Linked DNA regions of Homo sapiens. The protein of the gene in region 1 purifies or fractionates together with the protein of each later gene. This does not show direct contact. Each region holds a gene or a part of one and is shown on either strand. Other genes may lie near its edges.

The links. The genes of interacting proteins can lie anywhere in the genome.
Region 2: the proteins of DCAF4L1 (region 1) and CUL4B purify together in Homo sapiens (affinity purification with mass spectrometry; 4 studies listed by BioGRID and IntAct, with this or other methods). This does not show direct contact.
Region 3: the proteins of DCAF4L1 (region 1) and CUL4A purify together in Homo sapiens (affinity purification with mass spectrometry; 5 studies listed by BioGRID and IntAct, with this or other methods). This does not show direct contact.

Annotation. Positions count from the first base shown.
Region 1 is NC_000004.12:41,976,963-41,985,396, reverse strand, and holds the start of DCAF4L1 (DDB1- and CUL4-associated factor 4-like protein 1), read right to left. Parts: upstream 3,642-8,434; 5' UTR 3,605-3,641; coding exon 2,414-3,604; 3' UTR 1-2,413.
Region 2 is NC_000023.11:120,529,337-120,537,175, forward strand, and holds part of CUL4B (cullin-4B), read right to left. Parts: intron 7,699-7,839; coding exon 7,591-7,698; intron 6,608-7,590; coding exon 6,494-6,607; intron 5,251-6,493; coding exon 5,145-5,250; intron 3,259-5,144; coding exon 3,086-3,258; intron 919-3,085; coding exon 766-918; intron 1-765.
Region 3 is NC_000013.11:113,212,400-113,220,238, forward strand, and holds part of CUL4A (cullin-4A), read left to right. Parts: intron 1-6,545; coding exon 6,546-6,649; intron 6,650-7,839. UniProt on the Homo sapiens protein: Core component of multiple cullin-RING-based E3 ubiquitin-protein ligase complexes which mediate the ubiquitination of target proteins. As a scaffold protein may contribute to catalysis through positioning of the substrate and the ubiquitin-conjugating enzyme.

The DNA.
Region 1 (8,434 bases):
TTTAACCATTATAGTGAAAGTGGTGTGGCATTGTGGTTTTAATTTGCATTTCCTTGACAATAAAAGAAGTTGGATGCCTTTTCAAATGTATATTAGCCATTTGGATCTCCTCTTTTTCTCCTATTCAAGACTATTGCCTCCCTTTCTTTTAGGTGTGTTTTTCTTACTGATTTTTTTTTTGCATTTGTTTTCTTTGCAAATGAGGATAAACAGTTTATCAAGTTATGTAGTCATTTTTTGTCAATTGCCAAATAAATGACATATCAGTATCAGACATATATATATATACATATATATGTCTGCAGCTAGTTCTTACTGAATGATTGCAATGTCTTTTCTTCATTAATTGTTTTGTTTTATTTTGAATGCTTACAATGTAAAAGGGACAAGATACATATCCTTTAACCCTGTATCTACTTTATCATTTAGTTTTATTATCTAAGACATTTTACACTGAAGAAACAACAGCAAGTAAAGCTTACACAATTTCTCATGTCACATATCAAGTTAGTATAAAAAACTGACTGAAAGGATTCCAAAAATCTGTGCCTAACCATACTCCCATATCTTCTCTATTGATCTACTCATCTTCTATCAATATGTAATTACATTAACCTCATCTATGTCATATAAAGCACATCTATCCCATCTATTTTAATTCTATGTATTGAAGTCACCAAATTTGTATTACCAGCCATGACATGACCCCTGATCTGCAGAATACTTTGTATCTCCAATTGGAGGTTTAGTAGATGTCTAAAACTCAGCATCATTCCCTTCACCTAAAGTTTTTTCTCCTCATCCTCCCCAGGTTAGTAAACGACACCATCATCTACCAGTTCTAAAGTTAACAAAAAAGCTGCCATCCTCAGAGCTTGCAGTGAGCCGAGATCGCGCCACTGCACTCCAGCCTGGGCGACAGAAGGAGACTCCGTCTCAAAAAAAAAAAAAAAAAAGCTGCCATCCTTTTTTCTTTCACTTTCTAGTTTACTCTCATCAGCAAGCCTTATCAATAATACTACCTTCGAATGATCTTCCAATGCAATCATTTCTGATCATTTCTACTTCTCACACATGCAGGTCCAAGGCATCATTGTCCCTTGCCTAACTACAATAGTGTCCTAATTGCTTATTTTTATTTTTTGAGGAATAACATATATACAGTAAACTATAAAAACGTGAAGCATATAGATATATGAATTACGTATGTATCAAGTGTCAAGATAAAGAAAACTCAGCATTCCTAAAGCTTCCCCATGTCACTTCTCAAACATCCTAAAAAGAAAAAGAAAAAAAAATCCTTTCTTTCTACAGAGGTACGTACTACTCTACCTTTAATCACCATAGACAAGTTTTTACTGCTTTTGAACTTTAGAATTGAATCATACAGTTTGTACTCATTTCTACCTAATTTCAGTCAACATGTTGAGATTGGTCCATACTGTTTCACATAGCAAGTGTGCCTTATTTTCTATTATTATGCAGTATCCGATTGTATGATTATATCACGAATTTTAGCATTTTCGAAATTCAGATCATTTCCAGGCTTTGGCTATTAAGAAGTAGCAACTAACCTTATTACACGTTTTTTTTCTTCCTTGCTTAGTAGAAAAACAGGCTCTTTAACATTTTTAATAAATCTCTCACAAACTGCTGCTCCTAGATTACAAAAAGTCAAAGCCAATTCCTTGAATCTGAACTTCAAGTCACCATAATAGAAACCGGAGCTGCTGTACCTTACATTCTGAAAGGTACCTCAACAAAAGCACATCAAGGACTGTTTAAAACTTCTAGTATTTAAAAAGATCCATCTTTCCTTCCAATGCCTATGGATGATAACAATAAAAGGAGAACCTTAAGAGATCTGCTATTGAGTTTGAGAAGGCCAAATTTAATGATTCCAAACTCCAGCCTTAAATATTTCTGTAGAGACTCTGAGAAATTACCTCTCCCTTGTCTCCACTCCCACTGGCTTCCTCAAGCGCAGATGCCTGGGACCCTGTATGATTAGTCAAACAGTCTTACCAGTACCATCATTATGCTTCTCTAAAGGGCTACTAGTGAAAGAAGCTGCTTTAATTTATTTTAGTTTTTGCCAATCTTCAGTCCTTAGAAAAGTCTTAATTATTTAAAAAAAAAAAGGGTTGGGGAGGTGGTTAACTGTTCTAAGGCATTCAACAAGAGGAAACAGGTACCTTTTATGAAAAGGACTTTCAAGTTAAGTCCACAGTTTAACTGAAATAACTTTACAAGAACGTCTCCACATAAAACTCTTAACACCTTACCCCTGGCAGCCGGATGGATGCGATCTATATACAACACGTCTCTTAAAATGCTCTCACAGAAACGGTAATAAGATACTCTTAACTTCCTTAAGTCAAATCCACATTCGGCCGCGCTGCCACCTGCAGAATTAGCTGAAGGGGAAACAATAAAGGTCCTGCCGGACAGCCATGAGCAGCCCTGGTGCTGCTCCCCGGATGCCCCCGAGCCGAGAAGCGAAGGCCACGCTGGGAATGTCGTCCTCGGAGGCAGAGTACGGGGAAGGGATGGTTCTGAGCAGGTGGGCATCATGGAGGCTCCAGATTCTCGTGTAGCAGTCCTGGCCCACTGCCACCACGATTCCCTCTTCCTCGTGCACATGCAGGGGCAGATAGGCGGACTCATTCACGTGACCTTCGTACTGCCTTACACATTTAGTGGCCCTCAGATCCCACAGCTTGATCTTTCCAGTCATGTCTGATGCCATCAGGCATTGCTCTTCTTGGAGGATTTGCACAGAGGTCACTGCTGAGTCATGGAACAGGCGAGTGGCCCTCCACCCCTTGCCTCGATTTCTACAACGCAGATCAATGGCAAAGATCTCCCCGGAGCGACAGCCATTAAACAGCAAAGGAGCCGTACTAGCAAACTGCTGGGCCAAGACATCACTGCTGGTATCAAATGACTGCTGGTGTCCCGTCGCCACGCTGGTCAACAGGACCTGCTGAGACAAGCCTGCACTAAAGCAGTGATATGCCCGGGTGTTGAGGGACCACGCACAGGACCAGGCCTCTGGGATCTGGAAACTGCAGAGCATGCCAGGCTGGTTAACTCTTGTGTGAACACTTAAGAACCGCGACGCTGGGAGCAGCACTGCACAGCTTGGAGCATCTGTGATTCCCTCGAAGCACAGCAGAACGTGAGAGTCCAACTGGTTCAGCGAGGCCCAGCACAGGGACTTCACCTTCCGGTTGGGGACGTAGAGGTTTCTGAGCACGTACACGTGGAACGAAGGGATCTTCAGAGTTCGCAGGCTGATGATGCCGTACTTGGAGCCTTCGACTTCGACCTGGTTCACTACGAAGAGCTGGTCGCTGTTGGTACTCGCCAGAATGAAGTTAAATCGGTCGCTCGCCAAAGAGGAGGGATCCAAGCTCCGAATTTGGACCTTTTTCCGCTCCATGCAGCTCACACGCAGCTCGTTGGCTAAACGGGAGTAACTGGTGACGTTGAGGAAACCTAGCTGGCTTTTTCGGAGCATGGAAGATGCATTAAATCCCATTCTGGCTACCTTTTTCAGCTTGGCCTCTTCCTCGAGGAGTCGCAGCCTTTCAGCCTCCATTTCCTCCTGCGGAATGTTCCTCGTGACAGGAAATTCTGCAGGATGTTCTTCTCCGTGACAGGATGTTCTTTTCCGTGACAGGAAGTTCCGTCCGGGTGCAAGCGGAAGTGTTGCTACTTTTTATCCTCTCTATTCTAGGAGGAAGTCCATTGTTACAGATGTGTATTACAAATCTCTTTTCCTACTCTGTGGGTTGTCGTATTCTCTCAGTGGTGTCTTGATGAAAGGAAGTTCTTGATGTTAAATTTTTTCCTTTCTCTTTTTGAGACAGGGTCTTGCTCTTTCACCCAGGCTGGAGTCCAGTGGCACGACCACGGCTCACTGCAGCCTGGAACTCCTGGGCTCAAGTGATTCTCCTACCTCTGCCCTACTTAGCTGGGACTATGGGCTCACAACACCATGCCAGGCTACTTTTTTTGTAAAGATGGGGTCTCCCTGCTTTGCCGATGCTAGTCTGGAACTCTTGAGCTCAAGCAGCCTGTCCGCCTCAGCCTCCCAAAGTGCTGGGATTACAAGCATGAGCCCACGCGCCCTGCCTGTATTTCTTATTTTTTTATTTTTTATTTTAAGACGGAGTCTCGCTCTGTCGGCCAGGCTGGAGTACAGTGGCGCGATCTCGGTTCACTGCAAGCTCTGCCTCCCACGTTCACGCCATTCTCCTGCCTCAGCCTCCCAAGTGGCTGGGACTACAGGCGCCCGCCACCACGCCTGGCTAATTTTTTTTGTATTTTTAGTAGAGACAGGGTTTCACCGTGTTAGCCAGATGGTCTCGATCTGCTGACCTCATGATCGGCCCGCCTCAGCCTCCTAAAGTTCCGGGATTACAAGCGTGAGCCACTGCGCCCGGCCGCCTGTATTTTTAAAATACAGTTAGAGACCAGCCTGGGCGGCATGGTGAAACTTTGTCTCTAAAAAAATACAAAGATTAGGCCGGGCGCAGTGGCTCACGCCTGTAATCCCAGCACTTTGGGAGGCGCAGGCAGGCGGATCACGAGGTCAAGAGATTGAGACCATCCCGGCTAACACGGTGAAACCCCGTCTCTACCAACAATTAAAAAAATTAGCCGGGCATCGTGGCGGGCGCCTGTAGACCCAGCTACTCTGGAGGCTGAGGCAAGAGAATGGCGTGAACCCGGGAGGCGGAGCTTGCAGTGAGCCGAGATCGCGCCACTGCATTCTAGCCTGGGCAACAGAGCAAGACTCTGTCTCAAAAAATAAATAAATAAATAAAATACAAAAATTAGCGGGGTATGGTGCACACCTGTAGACCCAGCTACTCAGGAGACTGGGAGGGAAAATCACTTGAGCCTAGGAGTCTTGGAGGGAAAATCACCTGAGCCCTGAAAGTTGAGGCTGCAGTGATCACCCCACTGCACTCCAGCCCAGCTGGGAGACAGAATAAGACCCTGTCTCAAAAAGAAAGAAAAATAAGTAAATAAATTATGAATTTATCCAAATTGTCCATTTGTTTCATTAATGGTTAGTGTCTTTCATGTTCTGTTCAGGACATTAGTACCTATTACATGATACTAGTAAAGTTTTGGGGTGTCTTCAAGAGGAGGCTGATATCTCCAGTCCCCATCTGGATGTTTCCTTTGCCACAAAGCTTGCTGACTCCCCTTACGCTATGAATTTCCAGGAATTTTGGAGGACTGGGGAGAGTTGGTAGGGACTACAGAGAAATCCGGTGATATCTGGACTATGGATCCTGTCGGAATCTACAGGCCCCAGAGCTGGGATCACAGAGAGCACAGGAGATTGAGGCCCACACACTTGCCATGGAACATAACATGGGACAAGGGATTTCTATGTATCAGAAGAATGTGTTTCACCACTGCCAAATGGAAGTCAGCTGACAGATGCAGAAGTCTTGCAAAGGGCTATCAAAGCATAGAGGACTGCTTGATACTGAGTTATCAGTGGGGCTGTTAGGAACCCCATATATTCTAACAATGACCTACAGAAAGCAGATAGCAACATGGCGGCAGTCAGACATTTAAGGCATTGCCTGTTTTCCTTCTTAAACCTCCTGACCCCACCATCGGAAGAGCAGGCACATGGAAAAAAAGGGGTGTGTATAAAGAAAGTTGGAACTACGGGTCTAGTCTGCTCTGGAAGGCATGGAGGAAGTTTTTGAAATAAATATGAGACTAATATTTTAAATCAGTAGGACCTAATCTTAATACCTAGAATGAAAGTTTTAATAACTAAGGAGGCTGATACTTTGAAGCAATGAAATCTGACAAAATACCAAGTGTAGAAATGATGAGACTTTCAAGCTTATGCCTCTTGAGGTGAGATTCTCAATCAAACTGATTACACATCTTTGTCTACCCTAGTATACTGTGGACATCTTTAGACAGGGATTGTTTCTTATCCATCTTTCTATCCTTACTGTCTAGTGTATAATATAGTACATGGGACATAGGATATAGATAAGTGAATGAAGGAATGAAAATTATAAGAACTACATGTTTAATTCTCCTTTATTTCATAGGCTCCTTCACTGAGAGGAATAAGGGATTAAGGTTATTTCTGCAAAATCTATCCAACTTCTACTCTACAGGGAGAGCTTTCAATCTATTTCCACTTCTTTTTTTCAATTTTTAATTCCCGTGGATATATAGTAGGTGTATATATTTATGGGGTACACGAGATGTTTTGATACAGGCATGTAATGTGAAATAAGCACATCAGGGTAAATGGGGTATCCATTCCCTTAACCATTTATCCTTTGAGTTACAAACAATCCAATTACACTCTTTAAGTTATTTTAAAACATACAATTAAGTTACTATTGACCATGATCACCCCGTTGTGCTATCAAATAGTAGGTCCTATTCGTTTTTTGTGTTTTGTGTTTTTTTTTGTGTGTGTGTGTGTCTTGCTCTGTTGCTCAGGCTGGAGTGCAGTCGTGCGATCTCGGCTCATTGTAACCTCTGCTTCCTGGGTTCAAGTGATTCTCCTGCCTCAGCCTCCCGAGTAGCTGGGACTACAGGCTCCCGCTACCATGCCAGGCTAATTTTTGTATTTTTAATAGAGATGGGGTTTCACCATATTGGACACACTGGTCTCGAACTCCTGACCTTGTGATCCGCCTGCCTCGGCCTCCCAAAGTGCTGGGATTACAGGCATGAGCCACCACGCCTGGCCAGTCCTATTCATTATTTAACTTTTTTTTTTTTTTAACTCATTTACCATCCCCACCTCCCCCTTCTTTTCTGATTAACTAACTTTCCTTCCCTCTCAATAAACATATAAATCAACCTTCTAGAAAAAATAAGTCTCCTTAAATGCTACATGACTTTTTATCTACTGTCTTAAAAAATTATTTCAGCCTTTAGGATTCTTTCCTTCTCTTTTAGGAATTTACATACTCCATTCCCACCATGCCACTCCATTTCCTTCATCCACCATCTCTTCCCATTTCTCCATAGAAGAAATTGGAAACGTTCCCCATAACTCTCACAACTCTGCCCCTCAGGTCTTACCCCAGCTCAAGGTCCCATACTCACCCTGCCCAACCACATCGTGTGACCTTTGCAGCAGTGGTTCTCATCCTGGGACAACTGTTGGCAATATCTGGAGACATTTTTAGCTGTCACAACTGGATACTACTGGCATCGAGTGGGTTGAGGCTGGAGATGCTGCTAAACATCCTACAACACATAGGGCAGCCTCTTACGACAGAGAATTATACCCCAAAAAACTCCTCTCCTCAGAGTTAAAATTCAGAACTGTGTATAAAAGGCAAGGCTTACCAGCTTCCACCATGTGTGTGTGTGTTTTAAATTCCTAAATCTTCACACATGCCACATGCCTCTTAATACTGACCGTTTTTCCCATCCCCCACCTCTGTTCATGTCTGAAGCCACTTCCTCACTTTAGCATCACTGTTGTGAGTCACAGAGAGAGGAACAAGAGGCAACATTCCTCATCTTTTTACTCCAATATCTATACAAGACGGATAGGGAGGTAAAAAGATAAACAGGGATAGATTCCTACTCTATTCTATTCTGAGCCTCTTGCAAAGTCATATTCCAAATGCTTCAGATAGGCTTCACTGCAGCTTATTTATTCTTACCAATTTCACTATACTTTTTCCCAATATCTCCAACATCCCTTTTCTTGTCTTTGAGAAGCTTCCTGGAAATAACTTTTGTCTGACATGAATCTAAACGTATTATATTTCTGTGACATTTTACACTAATTATTGCTCTTTCTAAAAATACCCAGGCCTTTACTTTTTAGCCAATTTTTTTGTTGTTGTTGTTTCTAAAACAGAAGGTGAACTGGGTCAATTCAGGTATTAATTTTAGCTATGCCATATCAACTTCTGGACACAAGCAGCTAAAGAGAAACTGGAATGGGAAGAAAATTCCATTCCTGCCCTGTTTCCTGGTTAGGAAGGAGCAGACTTTAGAGAAGGAAGGCCAAGCATGGTTTGTAACAGGCTGAAAACATGCCCTTGAAAGCTGAGGCCTCAAGTGTGCCTGTGAAATGGTAAACAAACCCGGTAATGGTAAATGAGCCATGGCTTTGGCTTATTTGCAATAAGGAACAAATCAATTGAAGTATTTCATATTCCTCTCAGAAGAGAACCATAAAGAGCCATGAGACTTCCCAAACAATTGGGATAAATGGGAGAATTTAATAAATAGAATGAAACAAACAGAAGGAAATAAAAAAATGAGCAAAATGCTTTTTAAAAAGCTAAAAACATTTTAGAAAGTGTGAGAATAATAATTACTAAACCCACATGTCTGTAACAAATGAATTGCAATGAAAGGCCAGAGTACAAATAAGAATTATTCATTAACTTGCACTGTA
Region 2 (7,839 bases), on another chromosome or scaffold:
ACCTCACAATAATCCTACAAGGTAAGTACTATTATTATCTCAGTTTTACAAAAGAGGAAACAAGATCAGCATGGTGAAGTGATTTATGAAAGTCCAAAGCTCATAAGAACCCTAATAGCTAGCAGTCTATTCAAACTCTATCAATGTTTATCATCCAAGGGTTTGGCTATCTACCTCCTAAAACTTGGAAAAAAGGCCAGTACAACATCACATTAAGTGACTTTATTATTGGTCATTCACAATGGAACGTTTCCATTTAATGACCAATTTCAGTTTACCAGAACTATCACTACACTTTTCAAAAAGATGCTTAATCATGACTAGTTATCTGTATGGTTTTTAACAGATGATCTCTTATATAAGCTAACTAAACAGGAGATTTAACTCAATCCACAATAACTAAATCTGTCAAATACCATGGTATTTCAATAAATACCATGGTATTTCAAGAGGAAAAGAAGTAAATAACCAACCAAGAAGTTCAAAAGAAATATAGTGAATAAACTTGAAAATTTCAAACACTCATTTAGCAGTTAAACTTTCAGGTATCCAGGCTTTTCTGTTATTTTTCCCTTTTGTCACTGCTGCCCACATATGCCAACAAAGTTTTTTTTTTTGGAAATCATATGCATCAACATGGGAAATTAAAACTTTTCTCTCTCTAAATGGTCATGACGCTTTATGTTTGCAAGATTTGTGTCTGAAAATCTAATGTACTTTCTTTTATTTATAACACGCTCAATAGGAAAACACAGAAGTACCTACCTTTACTGGAAATTTCAACTGGTTGTACACTTCTGAAACAAGGAGATTGTGGCTAAGTGTCTTTCTCATCTTCATAATTCGAACAATTGCAGCATCAATTTGATACTGTCTGTCTTGAAATACTCTTTCTGTAGTGCTTGCTTGTTCTTCAACCTAACAAAAAAGTTTTAAACCTAGGAATTATACCAGAAGCAAAACCTGACTATTTACATAAATTGTGCATTTTAGGGACATGACATTGTTATTGCTTTAAAGGTACTGAATTATCTAAATGGGGTCTTATAAATATAGATGCTGACAGAGAAAAATCCTACAAACATAACTCCTTTCTGTTCTGATTATATTGCCCTATACCAATGAAGTAATGCTAATATTAGTTAATAGAAAAACATCATCTTTGAATTGCTTTTCTAGAAGTAGAGATAGCTGATGTGGAATTTACCATTTTGTTTTTTTACTCTGTCTTTGATATATCTTCTAAATGTGTGTATCAGTTTCAATGGATTGTTAACCAGATTTCTCTATGACAATAGCTTGTCTATAAGGTGACTCTGTCTGATCTCTGACTCAAGGCATGGTATTAACTGGCTAAGCAAACTAGTTAAGAGTCAACCTCTTTGAAAATTAATTTTTATTTTGTAATATATAAATCAGACATGCATGCCATTAGTGCTTACAATCCTTCAAGACTTACAGAAATGTAGGTATTTAGGAGGCGGTTTACCAATCTTGATGCTAAAGTAAAAATGTTCATCTTTAGTAATTAAACCAAAAAAACAGTTTGGCCTTTTTGCAGCAGTTTCTTCCTGGTACAGCATAAATGTTTTAAAAGTAAGGACATGGTAATCCTTTAAGAAAATATCCTGTCTTTGATGTGTATGTGAAAATGACAGGAACTTGTTTGGAGATACTGGTCGCTGTCCTACATTAAAATTTTTTCAGTCGGGCTCAGTGGCTCACACCTATAATTCCAGCACTTTGGGAGGCCGAGATGGGCGGATCATGAGGTCAGGAGTTCAAGACCTGCCTGGTCAATATGGTGAAAACCCATCTCTACTTAAAATACAAAAATTAGCCGGGCATGGTCGCTCACGCATGTAGTCCCAGCTACTCAGGAGGCTGAGGCAGGATAATCGCTTGAACCTGGAAGGCGGAGGCTGCAGTGAGCCAAGATCGTGCCACTGACTCCAGCCTGGGTGACAGAGTGAGACTCCACCTCAAAAAAAAAATTTTTTTTTTTTCAAATATTGCATTAAACCTTATTGGAACTGAAACCATCAGTTTCAGGATGCTGCAGTTGGAAGTCTCTTACAAATTCAAATGGCAAAAACAAACAAAATATTCACCTTCCCTGTTTTTGTTTTTTTTTTCTTTTTTTTAAACAGAGTCTCACTGTCACCCAGGCTGCAGTGCAGTGGCGCGATCTCAGCTCACTGCAACCTCCACATCCCGGGTTCAGGTGATTCTCATGCCTCAGCCTCCCAAGTAGCTGGGACTACAAGCACGCACCACCACGCCCAGCTGATTTTTGTATTTTTAGTAGAGACAGGGTATCGCCATGTTGGCCAAGCTGGTTTTGAACTCCTGACCTCAGGTGATCTGCCCGCCTCGGCCTCCCAAGGTACTGGGATTACAGGTGTGAACCACCGTACCTGGCCCACCTTCACTGTTAATCAAATAAATAGTGAATAAATCAATTCAGATTTTTCACCAAGCAAGTTGGCAAAAGAAAATATAATCTTTAGTGCTGGGGGACATAGTAAGACAGGCTCTCATATGCTGCTGGACAGAGTATAAACTGGTCCAGCCTTTCCGGAACACAATATGACATTATGTACTAAGACTCCTAAAATGTTCATACCCTTTAACCCAAAAAAATCTACTTCCACAAATTTATCATATATCAGAGATTAAAATTTAGTTTCAAAGAGGTTTCTTGCAATCTTATTTATAATACTAATAAGTCATGAATTTAATTGCCCCAAAATGAACAGTGGTTGAACAAACTATAAGAGCCATGTAAAAATATTACACTGCCATCTGCCATTTTTCGAAGCTATTTAATGGCATGGAAAAATTCTAAAGATTGAATACTAAATAAACAAAGTAAGATATGAAACTATGTTGAGTATCATCTCAATCCTGTACAACCACTCTCCCAAACACCCAAAATCAAATCAGGAAACATATTTAGCTGGACATAGACACAAAAAATATTAATGGTATTGGCAGTATTACAGGTATAAAAATCTTTATATATTTTGATTATTAACATGTATAATTCCAGTGTGTTAGGACTAAGAGAAAGTGAAAGAAATACCGTTTCTTTCATCTGGATTTGATTGATCTTTATCCTGAAAAGTTTATGTTTGAAATCATCATTACAAATGAACTTGTCACCATCTTCAATGTCTTTGCCCTTTGGATTTTTCGCCAGAACTCTAGCTTTGCCACAGGCTAATGACTGCAGTGTTCTCCTTAACTCTCCATCCTCTGAAGAAGAAACAGAGGTTTAGTTATTTGTTACCAGCATGAACAACTACGACATTCTACCTCAATCTAGCTTCCACTCCATCCCCCTATTAAAACTATTTCATTTTTTCCCAAAGGTCACCAACAACTTTTCTTTGTTCTAGCCAATGGCTTTTTTCCTAGTCCTCTTCTTTTTTAAAAAAAATAGAGGCGGGGTTTCACCATGTTGCCCAGGCTGGTCTCAAACTCCTGAGCTCAAGTGATCCACCCGCCTTGGCCTCCCAAAGTGCTGGGATTACAGATGTGAGCCACCACGCCCGGCCCCTAGTCCTCTTTTAAAGACGTCAATTATCATACCATGTGGGCAACTACCAAATATTCCAAAATGACATTTCACTTCTCTCCAGTTGCACGTTTAAAGGGCAATTCCGCCTGGCTGTTTTACTATCAACTGTAGTTACGTCCAAAATTTGATTCATCATCTCCATATAACTGTGTCCTCTTTCCAATTGTCAGTGGTGATACCACTAACCTTCTCAGTTGGGAAACCCTAAAATCATCTTTTAACTTTTCCTTCTCCTTCATCCTCAACATAATAGCTAGCCGCTGCTTCCGCAGAGATGAGTTTTCTCCATTTTCATGGTCTCATTCTAGTCTAAGTCCCTTCTACTTTATGCCTGAATCATCCCAATAGCATCTAAACTGGAATCCCTTGATCCTTCCAGTTGCCCTGTAGATTGATTTCAGTAAGTGGTCCAAATAATTACTTCCACCATGCCACATAGTTGAGACACTACAGTGTAGGTTTCATTTGCTAGACTTATCAGGTTCTCCACAATCAGGCCCTACTCATCTTACCTAATTTTTTAACTCACTATTCTATGTTACAATTAAGCTCTTCATGATTCTTCATGATTCTATGCTACAATTAAGCTCTTCATGGGCCTATACTGTGCCCATTCCTACCTCCCAACCTCATCTCAAAATATTTCCCCTTGCTGTATATGCCTTCTCCCTGACCAAAACTTGAAGGCCCAGCTCAAATGCCACTTGCTTCATGACAGCTTTCCCAATTGTGCCAGTCCACGGTGATCTCTTGCTTTGTTGCACTCTTACCACACTTATAGTCAGTACCACAAGCCAGTACTTATGGGTTTTGACATTATTTCAAGTGTCATTTCCCCCTTTCCCTATGGTTATATAAAGAGTTCTGGCCAGGCGCGGTGGCTCACACCTGTAATCCCAGCACTTTGGTAGGCCGAGGCAGGCGGATCACGAGGTCAGGAGTTCGAGACCAGCCTGGCCAACATGGTGAAACCCCGTCTCTACTAAAAATACAAACATTAGCCAGGTGTGGTGGCAGGCGCCTGTAATCCCAGCTACTCGGGAGGCAGAGGCAGGAGAATTGCTTGAACACAGGAGGCAGAGGTTGCAGTGAGCCGAGATCGCGCCACTGCACTCCAGCCTGGGTGACAGAGCAAGATTCCGTCTTGAGGGGAAAAAAAAAGAGTTCTGGCTGGCTGCAGGGGCTCATGCCTGTAATTGCAGTACTTAGGGAGGCTGAGGCAGGAAGACCCCTTGAGCCCAGGAGTTTGAGACCAGGCTAAGCAACATAGTGAGACCCTGTCTCTACAAAAAAAAATTTTAAAAATTAGCCAGGCACGGTGGCATGCACTTGTAGTCCCATCTGCTTGGCAGGCTGAGGCAGGAGAATCACTTGAGCCTGAGCCATGATTGTACCACTGGACCCCAGCCTGGGTGACAGAGTGAGACCCTGTCTCATTAAAAAAAAAGAAAAAAAAAACTCAAAACAGTTCTGAGGCAAGGAATTATTCCTATAAATATGTCCCCCAGACCTCTTAACATAGTGGTGTGCACATAGTGAACAATTAATGTTTGCTACAAACCTATTCCAGTTGCCTGCTTGATCTCTTCTAAACTGAACTCCTCTCCCTCATTAAACATTAGCAGCACCAGTGTTTGAAAAAGAGAGACCTGGAGTTCCTTTTTACCCTGTTGAAGAAATAAAAGTGTTTAGTCATCACTTTTTTAAAAACACATGAAAAATTAATCATCTCTTATAGGAAAAGCATTTTTCAATTAGTGGATTTAGAAACATGATTAGCATTATCCAGCAAAGCCACTTGACGTGGTAATACAGTATTTCAGTGTGAGGTTTAGGTGTGACCCTACCTAAAATAGGGGGAAGGATTAGCTGACCTTTTAACAGTTTTTTTTTAAGCCTTATAAATAGAATACAGTAATGAAAATTAATCAGCCTTATGTGTCATTCTAGATATTCATCACAAGCAGCAAGAAATCACTATTTCAAATGTATTTTTGATTTGTTTGGCTCAGATTAGTCATGAAAAGCTAAAGTTTTTTGAGATTAGATATTGCACACTGTTTCCCTTAACTCCCACTCTATTCGTAGCTCCCAGCAACAAGATTTCTGTCAAGAAGTGGCAGTGTTAGACTAAGTGTAGTTGCTCATGCCTGTAATCCCAGCACTTTAGGAAGCGGAGGCAGGGGGATAGCTTGAGCCCATGAGTTTGAGGTTACAGTGAACTATGATTGTGCCACTGTACTCCTGCCTGGGTGACAGAGTGGGACCCTATCTCTAAAAATAAACAAATAAATAAAAATAGGAAGTGGCAGTGTACAGTTTTCATCCACAGGTGAGGAAAGGGTAGGGGGAAAGTTCACTGCTTTTCATTTTGCAGAAGGGCCAAATCAATCGTGGAAAGACCACACACCTAAAATTACTTAAAAATACATAAAGCTATGACAAACTATCACTGTCATCATGCGGATATCTAGGATACAATTATAAAACAACAGCTTAAACTGGCCAGATGCGGTGGTTCACACCTGTAATCCCAGCACTTTAGGAGGCCGAGGCGCGTGGATCACAAGGTCAAGAGACAGAGACCATCCTGGCCAACATGGTGAAACCCCGTCTCCACTAAAAATACAAAAAAAATTAGCTGGGTATGGTGGCGCACGCCTGTAGTCCCAGCCACTCGGGAGGCTGAGGCAGGAGAATCACCTGAACCCAGGAGGCAGAGGTTGCGGTGAGCCAAGATAGCGCCACTGCACTCCACTCTGGTGACAGAGTGAGACTCTGTCTCAAAAAAAAAAAAAAAAAAAAAAAAGAAGAAAACAAAAAACAATAGCCTAAACTTTCAGTTAAGAAGGATGACCTAAACATTAAAGATAAAGATGAAAACTAAAAGTTTTGGGAACATCCACTTACCTCTTTAAATTCTGCTTTTAACACACAGTGTCCTAGGGTTGACTGCCACTGAAGTTTCCTGCCACTATGTTTGCCTAGGTAAAATGTCTTGAAAATCTCCTGAAGTTTTACCATCTAAAGTAAATAAAATAAGGCTTTATTTAAGCTCTGTATCCAATACCACATTTACCATTTTTATACTTACCTCATGTGATATAGTTTCTGGAAAATTTTAAGACTATATCCAGTAGGTCCACCAATCACTTTGATGAAAAACAATGATCTCCCAACCACCAAATCAAATGGGATTTATTAGGATTTATACCTTTTGCTCTCTCTGAACATTTAATCATCCCCTCTTTTGAAACATTCACCTGCAGCAGCTTTTGTGCCTCTGCACTATGCTGCTTCCTTTATTTCACTGTTGCTTCTGCATTGGTTTCCTTCACAGGTTCCTCTTTCTACCATCTGCCAAATGTGAGCCTTTTCTAAAGTTCTGCCTCTGCTGTTTTTTCTTCCTCTTTGAGAGAAATCTACTCCCTGGGCCTTCATAATCATCTCCATGGAGGATTCTCAATATCTATCTGTCTAGCCTTAATCCCTTTTATGGGCTTCAGTCCTGGACTAGACAGTTTACCAGGAGTCAGGATAGATTTAATCAAGGACCCATCATTTAGCAATCCCACCTATGGGTGAAATATGTGCAAGAATTCTTAATAGCTAGGTAGAGTGAGGGGTATAACCTGGGAAGATGGAAGAAGAGCCAGGGAAATTGACCCTGAACCCAGAAATTTGGCATTATTAGCTATGTGCTTAACTGGACTTCTAAGTACAAAAGTAAAACATTAAAGCAGTTGGTATTTGGTGTTGGTGCGCTTACTGACATACACTTTTAAAAGTATCCATGCCAAGCCTGGTGACTTACACCTGTAATCCCAGCACTTCGGAAGGCTGAGGCGGGGGGGATCACTTGAGCCCAAGAGTTCAAGACCAGCCTGAGCAATACAGCGAGACCCTGGGTCTCTATTTTTTTCTAAGTATCTATTTTTAAATGACAAGCAAAATGGAAATGCTATGATTTCTATGCCTATAACTCAGTTCTAAACAGTAACTCTTACCTCTGGTGGTAAATGAACTTCCATAGGCACATATGTCGGCCAATAGCCCATTGTCAGGATATTCACAGTTAACTCAATATTTCCCGGAACATTCTGATTCTGCATATACTATAAGAAGATCAAAACACACACTGAGATCTTAAAACTGCATACATTTCATATCATAATAACCTATTTAAGAAGTTCCCTGTTATGAAATTACATGCAAACACTGACCATCCTTAAAATAAAAGGCAACTATTAAGAAGA
Region 3 (7,839 bases), on another chromosome or scaffold:
CTTTCTTCCAGACATTTTAGAGTTTTAGGTTTTACATCTAGGTCTACGATCTATGTAGAGTGAATTTTTGTATATATTGTGAAATACAAATCTAGAGTCAGAGTCGGGTGCAGTGGCTCATGCCTGTAATCCCAGCACTTTGGGAGGCCAAGGTGGGTAGATCGCCTGAGCGTCAGGATTTTGAGACCAGCCTGGCCAACATGGTGAAACCCCATCTCTACTAAAAGTACAAAAAATTAGCCGGGCGTGGTGGCAGGCACCTGTAATCCCAGCTACTTGGGAGGCTGAGGCCGGAGAATCGCTTGAACCCGGGAGGCGGAGGTTGCAGTGAGCCGAGGTTGTGCCACTGTACTCCAGCCTGAGCAACAGAGTGAGACTCCATTTCAAAAAAATACAAAGAAAAGTCTAGAGTCAGTGTTTTCCCTGCAAATGTCCAGTTTTTCAGTCTCTTTTCCCCTACTGAATTGCCTTTGCTCCTTTGTCAAAAACCACGTAGGAGTAGGAGGAGTGAGTTGTGAAATCAGGGTGTGTTGGCCCCCCAGCTTCATACATTTGCACAGGTTTCTGGCTATTCTTGGTCCCTTGTGTTTCCATGTGAATTTTAGAATCGGCCAATTTGTATAAGAAAGTGTGCTAAGATTTTGATTGACGGTATATAGAATCTACAGATCAATGTAGGAGAATTAAATTCTTAACAGTATTGAGAGTCTGGGCTCAGTGGCTCACACCTGTAATCCCAGCACTTTGGGGGGCTGAGGTGGCCTGATCGCTTGAGCCCAGGAGTTCGAGACCAGCCTAGGCAACATGGTGAAACCCCATCTCTACAAAAAATTTAAAAATTAGCCTAGTGGGGTGTTGCATGCCTGTAGTCCCAGCTACTCAGGGCCCCCACACCACAACCTGGAAGCTCTTCACACAGGAAGCTGAGCAGTTGGGGCCTGTTTGTCTCCCATCTTTCTGAGATTCACTGTCTTTCATAGCCCAGTACTCAGTGCTTCGAAAACTGTTGCTTCGTATATTTTGCCTGATTTTGTGGTTATTTCAGGCAGAAAGTTAATACAGTTCTTGTACTGTGTCTTGACTAGAAACGAGTCCCACCTGAACTCTCAGAGGTCTTTGGTTTAATAAAATATGATACCTTACAGCTAAAGCTTCTTACTACTCTTTTCCTGGAGATTTGGCTGTCTGATATCTGCTGCCTCATTATTTTTACTTAAAAAGGCGGAATTACTTTGCAACACCTTGTACACAGTGATATGTCTTATAAAACAATCACTAGATATTATGAACAATGTTTGTAGGTGCCTTAGGTGTCTGTCTTGAAACCCTGAGAACTAGGAGTGCTTACCCCAAAATGACAGTCACTGGTTCCTCCTTGGAATGAGACATCGCAAATTCCAGGGGCATCTCTGGAGGTGCTGCCCCACCAGGGGATATGTGGAATCAGTTGATTCACTTACTTGTGATCATCTCTCCACGCACAGGTGGGCTTCTGGCCTCTCACAGAGTCTGAAGCATGAGCTGCCTCAGATCTATTGGAAGCAAATGGGATAGAAATCTAAGAAAAGCAAATGTGAAATTACTGATGTCTGATCAAGCAGGCAATACATTTGACTTGGTGTTTCAAAATAAAGTCTCAGTTTTTGTATAGGTGGGGTGGTGTATACTTTGCCAAAGAATCTTATGTGAAAGGACCAATTCTCACCCAAGTTTGAAAGGTTTGGTTTCGTGTTTGGTTTTTGGTTTTGCTCACTCTCCCTCTACGTCTAAACACCTTAGGAGTCCTGTCACTTACACTTTTTGGGCCTCAGCTGGCCTGTTGTTTCTGTTTGTTACTTTGTTTTTATCATTTTCCTCCTGTAGTGTGTAGAGGAGAATGTTGTGAAGGCATGGATCTTTTCCATTGAACGACCTGAATTTCGGTCTGTAATAACTAACTCCTGAAGAAAGTGCATCTTCTGTGTCTTGTGTCTCTATGTTTTAGTCCTGCTTGTTGCTAAATGAGACAACAGAAAACTGAAGACTGCATTTCTAGAAAGGTTTCAGAGAAAGGCTGTGTTTTGATTTAGAACTGGTTTTTTTGTTTTTTGTTGCACAAAAACAAACCTCTCAGGCCCTTTAAAAAAAAAGAGAGAGAGAGGTGTGGCCTCCCTATGTTGTCCAGGCTCCTTGGGAACTCCTGGACTCAAACAGTCCTCCTGCCTTGGCCTCCCGAAGTGCTGGGATTCCAGGCGTGAGCCATTGCACCCGGCTGACATGCAAGTTCTGAGGAAAGCCAGGCTGTCTTTCTTGAGTCACGGAGTAGTTGTCTTCATGACATGTTGATACCAGGTGATAATGGTCAGTGAAAGAGAGAGGTTAGTCCTTTGTATTAGGTGGCATCCTTCCCTCACACCCAAGCTGCAGGCCCAGCGTAGGAATGGGACCTCCACAGCCACACAGGTCTCATCCTGTGTGGCTGTGAAGGTCGCTATATGACTCTGGAGGTAGCTATGTGACTATGGAGGTCTCGTCCCGTGTGGCTGTGGAGGTCGCTGTGTGACTGTGGAGGTCACGTCCCATGTGGCTGTGGACATCTTGTCTGTGTGGCTGTGGAGGTTGCTGTGTGACTATGGAGGTCTCGTCCTTTGTGGCTGTGGACGTCTTGTCTATGTGACTGTGGAGGTTGCTGTGTGACTGTGGAGGTCGCGTCCCGTGTGGCTGTGGAGGTCACTGTGTGACCATGGAAGTCGCGTTCCGTGTGGCTGTGGAGGTCGCTGTGTGACTATGGAGGTCTCTCTCGTCCGTGTGGCTATGGAGGTCTGTGTGGGAGTATGGAGGTCACATCCCGTGTGGCTGTGGAGGTCGCTGTGTGACTGTGGAGGTTGCTGTGTGACTATGGAGGTCGCTATGTGACTATGGAGGTCGCTGTGTGACTATGGAGGTCTCATCCATGTGGCTGTGGAGGTCTCTGTGACCATGGAGGTCACGTCGCATGTGGCCGTGGAGGTCGCTGTGTGACTATGGAGGTCACGTCCCATGTGGCTGTGGAGGTCGCTGTGTGACCATGGAGGTTACTGTGTGCCTATGGAGGTCGCTATGTGACTATGGAGGTTGTTGTGTGACTATGGAGGTCTCGTCCATGTGGCTGTGGAGGTCTCTTTGTGACTATGGAGGTCACGTCCCATGTGGCCGTGGAGGTCTCTGCGTGACTGTGGAGGTCACGTCCCGTGTGGCTGTGGAGATCTCTGTGTGACTATGGAGGTTTCATCCATGTGGCTCTGAAGGTCTCTGTGTGACTATGGAGGTCGCGTCCCATGTGGCTGTGGAGGTCGCTGTGTGGCTATGGAGGTCGCGTCCCGTGTGGCTGTAGAGGTCGCTGTGTGACTATGGAGGTCTCGTCTGTGTGGCTGTGGAGGTCGCTGTGTGACTATGGAGGTCGCGTCCCATGTGGCTGTGGAGGTCGCTGTGTGACTATGGAGGTCTCGTCCGTGTGGCTGTGGAGGTCGCGTGTGTGACTATGGAGGTCTCGTCCATGTGGCTGTGGCGGTCTCTGTGTGACTATGGAGGTCTCGTCTGTGTGGCTGTGGAGGTCTTTGGGTGACTATGGTGGTCACGTCCCATGGTCCCATGTGGCTGTGGAGGTCGTGTGTGACTATGGAGGTCTCGTCCACGTGGCTGTGGAGGTCTTTGTGTGACTATGGAGGTCACGTCCCATGTGGCTGTGGAGGTCGCTGTGTGACTATGGAGGTCTCATCTGTGTGGCTGTGGAGGTCTTTGTGTGACTATGGAGGTCACGTCCCATGTGGCTGTGGAGGTCTCTGTGTGACTATGGAGGTCATGTCCCACAGCTCCATGGCCTTCCTTGTTCTGTCTTCCACATCTGAGAGCAGGGATTGCCCTTATCCGCAGTGAGCATTTTGTTTAAGTAGCAGTGAGTTCACTCCAGGCAATGCTTTGACACTATAAATAGACGTGTATTTGACATTCACACACGTGTCTGTTGAGCTAATACAGACAATCATTTGATGAACCTGCTAGTTAGGAAGTAGCTGTGATGTGAGAAGAGACAGTGCTGGCTGTAGATATACACCAAATTTCCTCACTTGGCTGTTGATACAAGGAAAGCATCTTGATACTAATAGGAGTAGAATGCAAATGATACTTCTCTACCTCCGATCATTGGATTACATTCCTTTTCTCTGGGGTGAATCTTTAAAATGCTAATGGCCTGAGTGCACCAACATGAAGCACACAGTACCATCTGATTAGTTGCTTTATGCATCCAGAGAGGGTATTTCTAAATCTCAAAGTATGATTGAGTGTCAAAAATCCATTTGGGGGAGGGGCAACTCCTGTGTTGTGCTGCTTCTATAACAGCACAAAAAAGTCTTCCAGTATGTTCCTGCCAGCAAGGAGTTGGCAGGGCGGGGAGAAACAAAGGCTGTCGCCTTTCCAGTGATGAGTGCCTGTAATATGAAGCCGGGAGTCCTGACTCAGCACCTACAGCAAACCTGGGTTACCCAGGGCTTGCCACTTGTTTTGAGAGGTTCTTAAATTCTTAATTTTAAAAACAAAGTAAATTGCAGTATGACTCATATGAATAGTAAATGTGCACCAAATAGGACACATAGGAGGCAGAGTGGGTTATAAAATATTTAGTCATTTGCCACAACCAGGAAAAGATGGTTTTAAGGATATTGGTTCTTGGTCTAGGAATTAAAACATCCAGAAAATGGTCCTAAGTTACTGTTGATTTTTGCTGAAGAAAATACATTTTCTTCATGTGTTATATAAAAAACTTACTTTGTAATAATTATGTTTGTGGGATTCACTAATGTTTAACTACTGGAGCAAAACCTTTGTCGTAAAGTTCTCTTGGTTGTTTGAGGAGACAAAAGGATGGCAGATCTTTGACCAAATTATGAAGATATGGAATTCAAAGGGATGGAATTGAAGAGTTTGAGAAAGGAGTTAAAGTAAATACAGAATGTGGGTAGGAATTCCGTTTCTATAGTAAGACAAAATGTAGGGGGAAAGTTTGTATTTCTTTGTTATTATGCTGATAATAAGCTTGCTAGAAAACAGGATTATAATTAAAAACAGGATTATAATTATTCCACATCCTCTTTTGATCTTTGTAAATATGCATGTATTTTATATGGTAGTAATCACTGTATGTATTTAACTTTGGTTAATATGTAGCAGCTCTCCGATATTTAGTATTGGAATTATTAATACTTGTGTAAGTATTAGTAAAATGAATAGCTTTATAACTTTAATTTACCTTTTTTCCTAGGGGTATATTGTATCCTAATTAAATTCAGATTATTTATCTAAAGTGTTTTTATTCTGTATATCCCCACATTTTTCGAACCCCACATTGGTTCAAAACTTGTTAGAAAAACCATATTTCTGTTTATAATATTTCATATTGGAATTGAATGAGTTTAAGTTTTTGTACCTAAGATTGGAAAGGAAATTTTATTAGAACTGGTAAGAATGTACAAGCATTGTTTCTTTGAGGTGAGTAAAAATATTGTGAGAAAAAATTTTCTGCTTCAAAAAATGGTGTCAGCTGGGCACGGTGGCTCATGCCTGTAATCCCAGCACTGTGGGAGGCCGAGGCGGACAAATCACCTGAGGTCAGGCGTTTGAGACCGGCCTGGCCAACATGGCGAAACCCCTCCTCTACTGAAAATACAAAAATTAACCTGTGCGTGGTGGCAGGTGCCTATAATCCCAGCTACTCGGGAGGCTGAGGCAGGAGAATCGCTTGAACCCGGGAGGTGGAGGTTGCAGTGAGCCAAGATCCTGCCTTTGCACTCCAGCCTGGGTGACAGAGCAAGACTCCAACTCAAAAAAAAAAGATTTCTTCTTGTATTAGGGGTGTTCACAGAATAAAAAAGAAAGTTTATTAATTAAACAAACTGAAGTGAATTACACATCTAGCCTGCAGAAAAATAAATAGGAAACAATACAGTCTGGCCTGTGTCACCCAGAAAAAGCTCAGTTTGGATTGAATCACTGCCCTGGGGAGTGTGAGGGGAAGGCCCAGCCTGTTGTTCTCCTTCCTGATGGGAAGGTGGTCACTGAGGGAAAAGATTTTCTTGGTTCTCTAGCCCTGATTTCACTTTGTAATCATCAAGGTGAACTTAAACACAAACACACTCCAGTGACCCCCATCTCAGACTGAGGAATCGGAGCACCCGGAAACAGGCCTGTGAGGATCAAACCTGTTGAGAAGTCCCAAGTGACTGGGCACCATAGATGCTCAGGAGTGGTGCAGGCCAGCTGCCTGGGACCCGAGGTCCAGCAGGTGCAATGTGCCCACATTAACTGTTGTTACCTCTACCCCCATGCCAACTATGACTGGACTGCAGTGTTCCAACGAGAAGTGCCCTAAACTTAGCCATAATAAGTAATTTATTTGTAGATTCCTGAAGTACTGGGGTAGGGTGTGGGGTGCCTTTTTCTTATGATTACAGCTATGTTAACAATAGGGTTTTTTTATGAACCAATCTGTTGTTCATACTGAAGAATTGATGTAGCCCTTTTGTTTGCAGGCTGTGGAAAATCTCTGTTCTCACAAAGTCTCCCCAATGCTCTACAAGCAACTGCGTCAGGCCTGTGAAGACCACGTCCAGGCACAGATCCTTCCGTTTAGAGAATATCCTTTTTTTGGTTCATAAAGTTTCTATTCATTATCTAAGTCTTTTAAAACTGAACATTATTATGATAAAGAGCTAATGAGTATCCTTAATATTAAAACAACAGCTTTTAAAGTTCTCTTTTATTTGATAGGTTTGTAAGCGAAATTTACCATTTAAATTATTTTGCTGATTTGAATTAAAGGGAAACCGTGTTCATTTATTGGGTATGGTTGAAGTATTTAGGAAATGTTCTGAAAAATGTCTTCAAGTTTGAGTATCCTTTATTCTAATAAACACCATCTGCATTGGCTTTCTGTGATAGGCAACAAAGTCCCATCGACTTGGCGACTTATGGAGACACCCACTTATCAGCGCACAGTTGTGTCTGTCAGGAGGCCAGGCAGGATTCAGTGGATTCTATGCTCAGTCTCACGGGCAGAGTCAAGGTGTCAGCCAGGTTGGGGCCTCACCTGAGGTCTTTGCTAGCACGGGCAGGCAGTTGGCGGAAGCCAGTTCCTGTGGTAGTGGGACTGAGGGCCCTGCCTTCTGTCCCGTGTTGCTTGGTGTCACTCTCAGCTCCACATGCACAGGTCCTTGCCTCTCCTCTCACAGCACGACTCTTTTCTGCTTCTAGACCAGCAGGAGAATCTGCCTGTCTGACCTGCTGAGATAGGGCCTTATATGATGTAACCCGTAACCCAGTCAAGGAATGATGACCTTCGTATTCACAGCCTCGTTCACAGTTGCGTGTGAGGCATCCTCCACGTGGGGACAGGGCAGGAGCATCTCAGAATTCTGCTGCCACACCAGCTGTGACTCAGACGTCTACAGGGGAGTCTCTGGGCTCCTTGGCATCCTATAGAAAATCCTTTAATCTGGACTCAATCTCATTCCCCAGCCTCCTCCCAGTACTGTAGCTGTCCATGTGTCTCATTGGGTAGGAATTAGAAAGTAGAGTTTATAATTGCAGAAAATCTACTTGTGGCTGTACTTTTCTAGGCCTCCGTTTCTTCATGTGTAAAATTAGGTGGTTTGTGTTTGCTTATTTCTAAGTGTTCTTCTAGTTCAAGGAAACTTCTGCTCCCCCATCTCCCTGATCTTGGGAAACTAAACCATTCTGAGTTCATTGGAAGGGTCCTCAGGGAATCTGCAGCAGTTGGTGCTGCTGAAGTTGAAGCACGTGACAGGGAAGCTGAAATGCAGGGTG